2 separate regions of the Homo sapiens genome follow, and region 2 is linked to region 1. The links come from fine-mapping of genetic effects on gene expression. A gene starts in region 1. The other region holds a variant in brackets. All regions are shown on one strand. Distances are from middle to middle. Region 1 holds the start of CKB (creatine kinase B). Region 2 overlaps MARK3 (microtubule affinity regulating kinase 3).

The links. PIP is the estimated chance that this variant, and not a neighbour inherited with it, causes the effect.
Region 2: its variant is the best candidate, but not a certain one, in a credible set for the expression of CKB in whole blood (INTERVAL, PIP 0.63).

What each region holds. Positions count from the first base shown.
Region 1 is chr14:103,519,649-103,525,014 of GRCh38, reverse strand. It overlaps CKB (creatine kinase B), which reads left to right and starts at 2,185. Exons shown (of 8, transcript NM_001823.5): 1 at 2,185-2,249; 2 at 2,510-2,714; 3 at 2,838-2,992; 4 at 3,065-3,197; 5 at 3,581-3,752; 6 at 4,423-4,546; 7 at 4,704-4,893; 8 at 4,973-5,348. The coding sequence starts at 2,522. The coding sequence ends at 5,151. RefSeq lists enhancers at 1,058-1,943, 3,720-4,607 and silencers at 3,307-3,356, 3,497-3,566, 3,577-3,946.
Region 2 is chr14:103,481,872-103,487,237 of GRCh38, reverse strand. The region is part of intron 14 of MARK3 (microtubule affinity regulating kinase 3); the gene reads right to left. Among named protein-coding and RNA genes, the nearest start is that of CKB, 38 kb to the left of the region's middle. The variant G/TTTTTTTTTTTTTTTG (reference allele first, on the strand shown) is at 2,175.

The sequences.
Region 1 (5,366 bases):
TTCGCTATACTTTGTCTCTGTGTCTTATTTCTTTTCTCAGTCTCATCCCACCTGACGAGAAATAACCACAGGTGTTGGGGGGAGGGGCTGCCCCCTTCAGGAAAGGGGAAAGGGGGTCCTTTCCCATGGGGGACCTGGGAAGCAGGTTAGGCTCTCAGCCAGGAGGGTGAGAGAGGGGAGGGTTGGCCTTCTGAGAAGCTGCAGTTGCTGAAGACAGAGGAAGTCCTGAGTGTGGCCCCCAAGTCTCTCCCTCCCCCCAAGTCTGCCTCCAGGGGCTGCAGCTATCCCTTCCAGAAACAGAAACTTAAGCCCTTCAGGTTTTGTGGGGTAGCAGGTGGGCAGCTGCAGAAATTTCTAAAACTGGGCGAAGAGGCTGCACGGGGCACAGAGTGCAGGAATTCCAGGCTTAAGGGACACCTGCTGTCTGGCCAGCCCAGAGGGGCCGTTTGCCTTTTTACATGGGTTGGTTTTATTAAGTCTAAAAAATGCTGGCTTGGAACAGGACGAAGCATGCCAAGGAGCAAAGAGGCATGTGTCTCCTCTGCAGTGACCATGGGGATGAGACAGGAGAAAAGGCCCCCACACCGATGCTCACATAGGCAGAGGCGAACAGGCTTCCCCTGCCTTTGGGCCTTGGCTCTGGTGCCTTCTGCTCTGAGGCACCTATTCGGGGTCCCTTATACCTGGAACGCCACTGCTCTGTGTCCCCCTGGCCCCAGCAGCACCGATCTGATGTCATCTGGTTTGTTGGGCTGCTGGCTCATGGCCAGTCTTCTTCCAGCAGCAGGCGCTGTGTACCTCGCTGCCTGCTGTATCCCCAGCGGCTGGCACCTGTTAGGTGCTCATTGTGCCACTGCTGGAGGGATTTGTATCAAATATACCCACAGATAAGAGTTCCCCCCTTCTTTGCTTTATTCACAGAGCAACAGATGAGGGTCCCTGATGGATATTAACCCCACATCCTCCACTTCCCCCTCTTAACAGCTGCATAATATTCCACAGCAAGCAGATGCCTCCCTACCCTTGGCCACTCCCGCCTGATGGGGCATCGGGTTGTATCCAGTTATGTTTGTTTTTCCCTCCACAGATCTCTTGGTCCATTAGTGGAGAGAACTGAGACATCCTTTCTAAGGGCTGCATTCCTAGAAGGGGAGATTGCTGGGTCACGGAGTTCGAACATTGTTAACGTTAATAGATTCTGCCAAATTATCTTGCAAAAAGCATGCAGCAATTTAAGTTGCAGGCAGCGTGTGGACGCCTGTCTTCCCGCATTCCAGCTCAAAGCCAGCAATGGCTGGGGTCGATCTGGGAGTGTTGGGGGTAGGGGCAGGTGGAGTCACTGCTTAATTTGCATGATTCTGGTTATTCGTGAGATCAGTTTTTTTTTTTAATCGCACTTATGCTTATTGTTTATTAGCGTTTCCTCCCATCTTTGCCTGAAGTCTCCGGGGACTGCCTTTGGGGGTCGGGTAAACTTGTCCCCTGCGAAGAGGGCCCAGGGTTGGGGTCTGGAAACTCCGAGGCTGCACTTGCCAGCGGCCTCTTAAGGCCACAGCGTCCCCGTGGTTTCTGGCTCGCAGCCCCCCGAGACCCAGGACTTGTCCAAGGTCAGGGCACCGCGGGTGCCCCCGGGCTGGGCCGCAGCCAGACTGCGCTTCCCGCGCGCCTTCGCTTTGCACCAGGATCGCCCAGGAAACGCCTGCGGGCACCTTGAGGAAGGTCGGCGGCTCCGGGCCAGCTCGCACTGGCCGGGGGTGGGGCGGGGGCCGTACCTGCTGCGGAAGCCCCGAAAGCTTTCGCCCGGCCCCTCGCCGCCGCCGCGGGGGCTGGCTGGACTAGGCGGGCAGGCTCGAGGATGCGGATGAACCCAAGCGTCCTCGAGTGCCCGGAGGCTCTCCGCCTCAGTTTCCCGCCCAGAGGCAAGGGCGTGCGAGGGGATCCAGATATCCAAGGACCTGAGGTTTCGGCCTCGAGGTCTTGGGCGGGGGACTGGGCAGGCTGCGCGGGGTCCCAGCGAGGGGACAGCTCGGGTGGGCGGCCAGGGTGTTGGGGGCTGCGGGCGGCGGACAAAGCGGCGGCACCACCCCGCGGCGCGGGCCAATGGAATGAATGGGCTATAAATAGCCGCCAATGGGCGGCCCGCGTTGTGCCCCTTAAGAGCCGCGGGAGCGCGGAGCGGCCGCTGTTCGCCTGCGTCGCTCCGGGAGCTGCCGACGGACGGAGCGCCCCCGCCCCCGCCCGGCCGCCCGGTGAGTGGGCCCGGGGGCCGGGGGCGTCCGCGCCCGGGCTAGGGGCGCTGCGTGCAAAGGGGGCGCGTCGCCTGGAGCGCGCGCCGGACCGGCCGGGGGTCCCCGGCGATGATGGCGCTCCCCGCGCGCGCTGCGGACCCCGCTGACCTTGGCCGCGTCCCGGGGGGCGCCGGGGGGCCCGGCGGCGGGGGCCTGAGTGGTACGCGGGAGCCCGGGAACCCCGGCGTGCCGGTCCCCTCTGACCCCGCGTCTCCCCGCAGCCCGCCGCCGCCATGCCCTTCTCCAACAGCCACAACGCACTGAAGCTGCGCTTCCCGGCCGAGGACGAGTTCCCCGACCTGAGCGCCCACAACAACCACATGGCCAAGGTGCTGACCCCCGAGCTGTACGCGGAGCTGCGCGCCAAGAGCACGCCGAGCGGCTTCACGCTGGACGACGTCATCCAGACAGGCGTGGACAACCCGGGTACGCGACCCCTCGGGGCCGGGGTCCCGGCCCCCCCTCCCCCCGCGCAGCCGCAGGGTCCTCAGCAGCGCGCTCGGGCCCGGCAGTGACGTCACTGTCCCCGTCCCGCGCCCCCTCCCCCAGGCCACCCGTACATCATGACCGTGGGCTGCGTGGCGGGCGACGAGGAGTCCTACGAAGTGTTCAAGGATCTCTTCGACCCCATCATCGAGGACCGGCACGGCGGCTACAAGCCCAGCGATGAGCACAAGACCGACCTCAACCCCGACAACCTGCAGGTGCGGGGCTGCGGGCGGGCCGGGCGGGCGGGGCCGGGGTCTTCGGGCGCTCACTCCCGTCTCGCCTCCCAGGGCGGCGACGACCTGGACCCCAACTACGTGCTGAGCTCGCGGGTGCGCACGGGCCGCAGCATCCGTGGCTTCTGCCTCCCCCCGCACTGCAGCCGCGGGGAGCGCCGCGCCATCGAGAAGCTCGCGGTGGAAGGTAGGGGCCGGGCGGGCCGAGGGGCGGCGGCGGCCGCGTCCCCCTCCCGGCGCGGTCCCCGCCCGCTTTTGTTTACGTCGCCCGGGAGCGGCAGCCGCCGTCGCGCTCTTATCTGCGCGCGCCCGGGTTCAGTTTCCCGGAGGGACCGAGGGACGGAGGCCCAGCCCCGCGCCCACAGCGGCCTGGGGCCCAGGGAGGGCGGGTCCTGGCGCGGGGTCACCGCCTGGGACCGTCGCCCGGGCCGTGAGGACTGGACGCCCGCAGATCCGGGCGGGTGGGGCCCTCTGACGTCCCCCGAGGTGGGGCACGGGGGCGGGCGGGTCCGCGCTGCGGGCTGGAGGGGCGGGCGCGGGAGCCGAGCGTCCTGAGCGCACCCCTCGCAGCCCTGTCCAGCCTGGACGGCGACCTGGCGGGCCGATACTACGCGCTCAAGAGCATGACGGAGGCGGAGCAGCAGCAGCTCATCGACGACCACTTCCTCTTCGACAAGCCCGTGTCGCCCCTGCTGCTGGCCTCGGGCATGGCCCGCGACTGGCCCGACGCCCGCGGTATCTGGTGCGTGTCCCTCTGCGCCCTCTCGCGGCGTCCTCCCTCCCCGCTACCTCCGCTTTCCCTCTCGCCCCCCTCGCGGGGGTGGGGCCCCTCGCGGCGAGGAGGAGGAGGAGGAGGAGGGAGGGGCCGGCCGCGCTCCGGGTCTGGGTTCCGTGCCGCGCCTCCTCCTGCGCCGGTGACCTTGGCCGAGCAGGTGCGTTAAGGGACTGGGCCCCGGCCCGTGGGGGCTCAGGACTCAGCAACACCTCCCCACCCCGAGACGTGAGGTGGGGGCGGGGCTCTCTGGCGCCTCTCCCCGACGGCCCTGGGAGCTGGAGCTCTTTGTTTTCTTTTCTCACTCCTCCGCCGCTGGGATTCTACCAGGGGCTGGTGACGCCAAAGCTTCTCCAGGGGCAGGGCTCCTACCCCCACTGTGGGGGGCGGGTCGGGCTGTCCTGGCGGTCCCTGGCCCCGCCCCACCTCAGGCCACAGCGCATGATGGCAGCTGGGGTTCTCCTGCTGTGAGGCGTCCCGGTTCCCCCGCCCGCCCCGTGTTGGCGGGTGGAGTCTTGGCAGCAGCCTCCACTCCTGGGCATGGCAGGGAGCAGCACCTCAGGGACTTGGGAAGTTCCTTTGGTCTGGGGGCGGCCTGGGGCTTTTTTCTGGGTATGCCCTGAGACCAGCCCTCCCGCAGGCACAATGACAATAAGACCTTCCTGGTGTGGGTCAACGAGGAGGACCACCTGCGGGTCATCTCCATGCAGAAGGGGGGCAACATGAAGGAGGTGTTCACCCGCTTCTGCACCGGCCTCACCCAGGTGCCAGGGACGGGGCAGGCCCAGACCCCAGGGCCCCAGCAGGGATGTGGGTGCCCCAGCATCAGTCCCCCCGGGGGATTTCCGGCACTGGGGAGTCTCAGGGCCTGTAGGGGTTTCAGGCAGGCCTTCTCCCTCATACCCTCTTCTCCGTCTGCAGATTGAAACTCTCTTCAAGTCTAAGGACTATGAGTTCATGTGGAACCCTCACCTGGGCTACATCCTCACCTGCCCATCCAACCTGGGCACCGGGCTGCGGGCAGGTGTGCATATCAAGCTGCCCAACCTGGGCAAGCATGAGAAGTTCTCGGAGGTGCTTAAGCGGCTGCGACTTCAGAAGCGAGGCACAGGTGAGCAGGGCAGGTGCTGCGGCTTCCCGTGGCCTTTGGGCAGCCCTGTTTCCTCCGCCCTGACTTGCTGTCTCCCCAGGCGGTGTGGACACGGCTGCGGTGGGCGGGGTCTTCGACGTCTCCAACGCTGACCGCCTGGGCTTCTCAGAGGTGGAGCTGGTGCAGATGGTGGTGGACGGAGTGAAGCTGCTCATCGAGATGGAGCAGCGGCTGGAGCAGGGCCAGGCCATCGACGACCTCATGCCTGCCCAGAAATGAAGCCCGGCCCACACCCGACACCAGCCCTGCTGCTTCCTAACTTATTGCCTGGGCAGTGCCCACCATGCACCCCTGATGTTCGCCGTCTGGCGAGCCCTTAGCCTTGCTGTAGAGACTTCCGTCACCCTTGGTAGAGTTTATTTTTTTGATGGCTAAGATACTGCTGATGCTGAAATAAACTAGGGTTTTGGCCTGCCTGCGTCTGAGTGGTGCCT
Region 2 (5,366 bases), 38 kb after region 1:
GATTATAAATTATTAACTTGAGGCTGGGCGTGGTGGCCCACGCCTGTAATCCCAGCACTTTGGGAGGCTGAGGCGGGTGGATTGCTTGAGGCCAGGAGTTCCAGACCAGCCTGGCCAACATGGCAAAAACCCATCACTACTAAAAATACAAAAATTAGTTGGGTGTGGTGGCGGGCCCCTGTAATCCTAGCTACTCAGGAGGCTGAGGTATAAGAATCGTTTAAACCCGGGGGTGGTAGCTGCAGTGAGCTGAGATCATGCCACTAAACTCCAGTCTGGGTGACAGAGAGAGACTGTTTCAAATTAAAATAAATAAATAAATAAATAAATAAACTTTTTGACATACTAATTTTAAAGGCAATTAAATAAACTTTTTAGAAATTTAATCCATGTCACATCATGAGTTTCACAAAGCAAGCAACAAAATATTTCCGATTTTTCTGATTTCTACAGTAGGCCTAACACCCAGAAGGAAACAGTAAACTCAGTAAGATGTTTGCAAATTTCAATTTTGTACAATCAAGCTCACAAAAATCCTATTTACAACAGGCAGCCCCAACATCACAATGGTCTACATATATATTCTAAAAGGTCATCAAGCTAATTGTTATGAAATTCGAATAATATTTCCCCCCAGAAAAGTGTTAAAAATGATAGTTTTATTTCCTATTCTAGCCCACAATCTACATAAGCAAAACAGTAGCAGCATTACATTTTTTTAATAATTAAAAAATTTTTTTAAAGTTTTTGTGGGTTCATAGTAGCTGTATTACATTAATTTTTTTATTTTTATTTTTTTGAGACTGGGTCTGGCTCTACCGTCCAGGCTGGAATACAATGGTGTGATCTCGGCTCACTACAACCTCCATCTCCCAGGCTCAAACCATCCTCCTGCCTCAGCCTCCCAAATAGCTGGGACTACCGGCATGTACCACCACACCTAGCTAATTTTTGTATTTTTAGTAGAGATGGGGTTTCACCATGTTGGCCAGGCTGGTCTTGAACTCCCGACCCCAGGTGATGCACTTGCCTCGGCCTCCCAAAGTGCTGGGATTATAGGTGTGAGGCACTGTGCCTGGCACCCAGCTAATTTTTTTGTATTTTTGGTAGAGATGGAATTTTACCATGTTGCCCAGGCTGGTCTTGAACTCCTGGGTTCAAGCAATCCTCCTGTCATGGCCTCCCAAAGTGCTGGGATTACATGGTGGCGTGAGCCATCATGCCTGGTCTACATTTAAACCTTAATTGATAGAAATAGCAATGTTTTTCTTAAAATTCAAGTTGCATGAAGAGAGTTCCTATTAATCTTCCCAACTGTTTTGTATTCATGACTATCTTTTAAAATTAAAAAATATATATATTTTTATAGAGACGGGGGTCTCAGGCTACTTTGTCCAGGCTGACCTTGAACTCTTGGCCTCAAGTGATCTTCCTGTCTAGGCCTCCCGAAGTGCTGGGATGACAGGGCTTGTGAGCCACTGTGCCCAGTCTTGACTATCTTTTCTAAAACATTAATCCACTTAAGGTTACTAAAGGATAGGCACTTTGAATTTGTTGCTATGACCTCTAGCCCCTATCAGAACATTCTGATAAGAAATGTATTGGCTGCTGATTAAAAGCATACTCAAGTGACTGGGCAAAAGCAGAATTAAAAATATAGTCCAAGGACAGGCATGGTGGCTCATGCCTGTAAACCTAGTGTTTTGGAAGGCTGAGACTGGAGGATCCCTTGAGGCCAGGAATTTGAGACCAGCCTGGGTAACATGGGAAGACTTCATCTCTACAAAAAATAAAAAATTAGCCAGGTGTGGTGGTCCATGCCTGTAGTCCCAGCTACTCAAGAAGCCAACACAGGAGGATCATTTGAGCCCAGGAGTTCAAGGCTACAGTACACTATGATCATGTCTGTGACTAGCCACTGTACTGCAGCCTGGGCCACACTGCAAGACTCCATCCATCTTAAAAAAAAAAAAAAAAAAAAAAAAGCAGCCTTTTTTTTTTTTCTTTGAGATGGGGTTTTGCTCTTGTTGCCCAGGCTGGAGTGCAATGGTGCAATCTTGGCTCACCGCAACCTCTGCCTCCTGGGTTCAAGCGATTCTCCTGCCTCGGCCTCCCAAGTAGCTGGGATTATAGGCATGCGCCACCATGCCTGGCTAATTTTTTTTTTTTTTTTT[G/TTTTTTTTTTTTTTTG]TATTTTTAGTAGAGATGGGGTTTCTCCATGTTGGTCAGGCTGGTCTCAAACTCCTGACCTCAGGTGATCCGCCCACCTCAGCTTCGCAAAGTGCTGGGATTACAGGCGTAAGCCACTGTGCTCAGCCCTTTTTTTTTGTTTTTGAGACAGAGTCTTGCTCTGTTGCCAGGCTGGAGTGCAGTGGCGCTATCTCGGCTCACTGCAACCTCTGCCTCCTGGGTTCAAGTGATTCTCCTGCCTCAGCTTCCCAAGTAGCTGGGACTACAGGCGCATGCCACCACGCCCAGCTAATTAATTTTAGACAGGGTTTCACCATGTTGGTCAGGATGGTCTTGATCTCCTGACCTCATGATCCACCTGCCTCAGCCTCCTAAAATGCTGGGATTACAGGTGGGAGCCACCGCGCCCAGCCTAAAAAAAGCAACTTTTATATGTAGTCCAAAGATACATACGCTAAGTGTCCTCAATCCTTCTCTGCTCAATCTCTATGTGACTTGATGCAGGGTAAAGTGGATAAAATAATAAGCCACTTCACAATTTTGAAACTTTACAGTAATATCCAATATCTAAAATTTATTTGAAAGATTCTGGGCCTGGTGCAGTGGCTCATGCCTGTAATCACAGCACTTTGGGAGGCCAAGGCAGGTGGATCACTTGAAGTCAGGAATTTGAGACCAGCCTGGCCTAGTGAAACCCCATTTCTATTAAAAATACAAAAATCAGCCAGGTGTGGTGGTGTGTGCCTGTAATCCCAGCTACTGGGAGGCTGAGGCAGAAGAACTGCATGAACCCGGGAGATGGAGGTTGCAGTGACCCGAGATCGTGCCATTGCACTCTAGCCTGGGTAAAAGAGCGAGACTCCATCGCAGAAAAAAAAAGAAAAAAAGAAAAAAAAAAAAGAAAAGATTCTGTTTGCATTACTGTAACACCAGCACGTCACTTCTCTGGGGTCTTTAAATGAAGTAGTCTAAACAGTGTCGTCCGGGTATCTAAAGCATATGAAATCGTAGGAGCAGAGTGTCTCTGCTATGTAGGTGGTTTAGCAACATTATTAACTTGAAAGATTAGGTTTAGTCAGTGCAAACTAAGAAAATTCTGCATAACCTTGTCTGAACAGTCTATAATTAATAATGAAAGCTAACATTTGTTTGAGCACTCACTACGTGTCAGTGCTATGTGGTTTAAGACTCACTGCAAACCTATACCATCATGATAGAATCATACAATTGAAGGTGTAATCAAACCTTCTCATGCCTAGTTTACACCAACCATTAGTCACGCCTGGAATCTGGCCATTTTTCGAGAATAACATCAGAAGGCAGAATAATTACAGCAGAAAGTGGGCTGGCCTTCAGCACGACCAGTTTAAAACTAGTCTCAGAAAACGAATCACAGGTGTTTGTGCCAAAGTAACAACTGGCCCTAACCTATGCTCCCTGTGTCATTAACTTTATTGTTCCCACAGGAAAGCTGATAAAACAAAGATTGGCCTAGTAAGAACCAATTAATAAAACTAATTTTCAAAAGAAAAAATAATTAAAATTAATTATATTGCCTATGACGAGAAAAAGCCTTGCATTTAGTAAGCCTTTAAAATATCCTGTTTACAGTAGGATTTTGAAGGTAGTAAGGGCTTAAGATATGTGGAGTCTCTGGTTTAAACCTTCACACAGTTTTTAAAAAATCAGCCATCATTATTCTCATGTTGAAATTCCGTATGAACACTCATATAAAGAAGAAAACATTTAAGGCTAAATGTCGAAAATATTTAAGGCTAAAATTGGAACTTAACATGTTTGTTTCAGAAGTTAACATAGGTCCAGGCATCCTACAGCTCACTCATATTTTAAATTAGTGAAGAAATAAGATATATGGGTGGGTGAAGAGAGGGAAAAGGAACAATTTGCCGAAGAAGTCATCTGTGCAGGGAAAGCTAATTGTATCTCACTGAAGACTCAAGCATCAATTTTAAGGGAAAGCTGTCACATTTAGTGCCTTAACTAAAGAAGTTAAACCCAATAATTTTCCAGTCTTTTAATTCATTTATAAGATAGGAAAGGAAAGTCCAAATATTATTAAAACAATGGGCCCTGTCTTTTAAGGTTTGGCGGTGAGACTCTCTTTGACTAAAGAGAAAGACGACACCTTCAGAAGCAAAGTATTTCAATGACTGATGCTAAGAGAAGCAACGAGACAGGTCAGGATATGAAAGAGTTGGCCCCAACAAGGCAGGTGTCTCCAGGGGGAATGCAGAAAGGAAATATTGCCAAAGAAATTAAAGAAGTCTTAAATATTATTTCCAAAGAGTGAAACGAAAAATTTTAGGAAAAGAGAATCAGAAGACACAGGCATATATGCATGTGCCTGGTGTATGATACGTGTAGCACAGGATGGAAGCAGAGAGCAGATCTTAGTCTTAACACCCTTGAGGAGACTGACTCTGCACCTCAGACAGTCACATATCCTAAAGTTCAGAAGGAGCTGGGTAGTGCATTTTCAGAATTTAGAAGTAGTAAAGGTAATGAAACAACTTTTTTTTTTTTTAGATGAGTCTTGCTCTGTTGTCCAGGCTGGACTGCAGTGGCGCGATCTCAGCTCACTGCAAACTCTGCCTCCTGGGTTCAAGTAATTCTCCTGCCTCAGTCTCCCTGGTAGCTGGGACTACAGGCGCGTGCCACCACACATGGTTAATTTTCGTATTTTTAGTAGAGACGGGGTTTCACCATGTTGGCCAGGCTGGTCACGAACTCCTGACCTCAAGTGATCCACCTGCCTTGGCCTCCCAGAGTGCTGGGATTACAGGTGTGAGCCACTGTGCCTGACCATGAAACATTTCTGTAGTCCTGTAGACTACAATCTGTAACACCAGAAACTTCTAATTAAGTCTTCTATTGATATTTTCTATTAAGTCACTTTTGAACTAGAAGAAATTTGAAAGTTAAGAACTGAACTATAATACAAATCTACCAGAGAGTAGACTACTATTAAGAAATACCTGGCTGGGTACGGTGGCTCACGCCTGTAATCCCAGCACTTTGGGAGGCCGAGGTGGGTGGATCACAAGGTCAGGAGATCGAGACCATCCTGGCTAACATGGTGAAACCCCGTCTCTACTAAAAATACAAAAAATTACCTGGGAGTGGTGGCAGGCGCCTGTAGTCCCAGCTACTCGGGAGGCTGAGGCAGGAGAA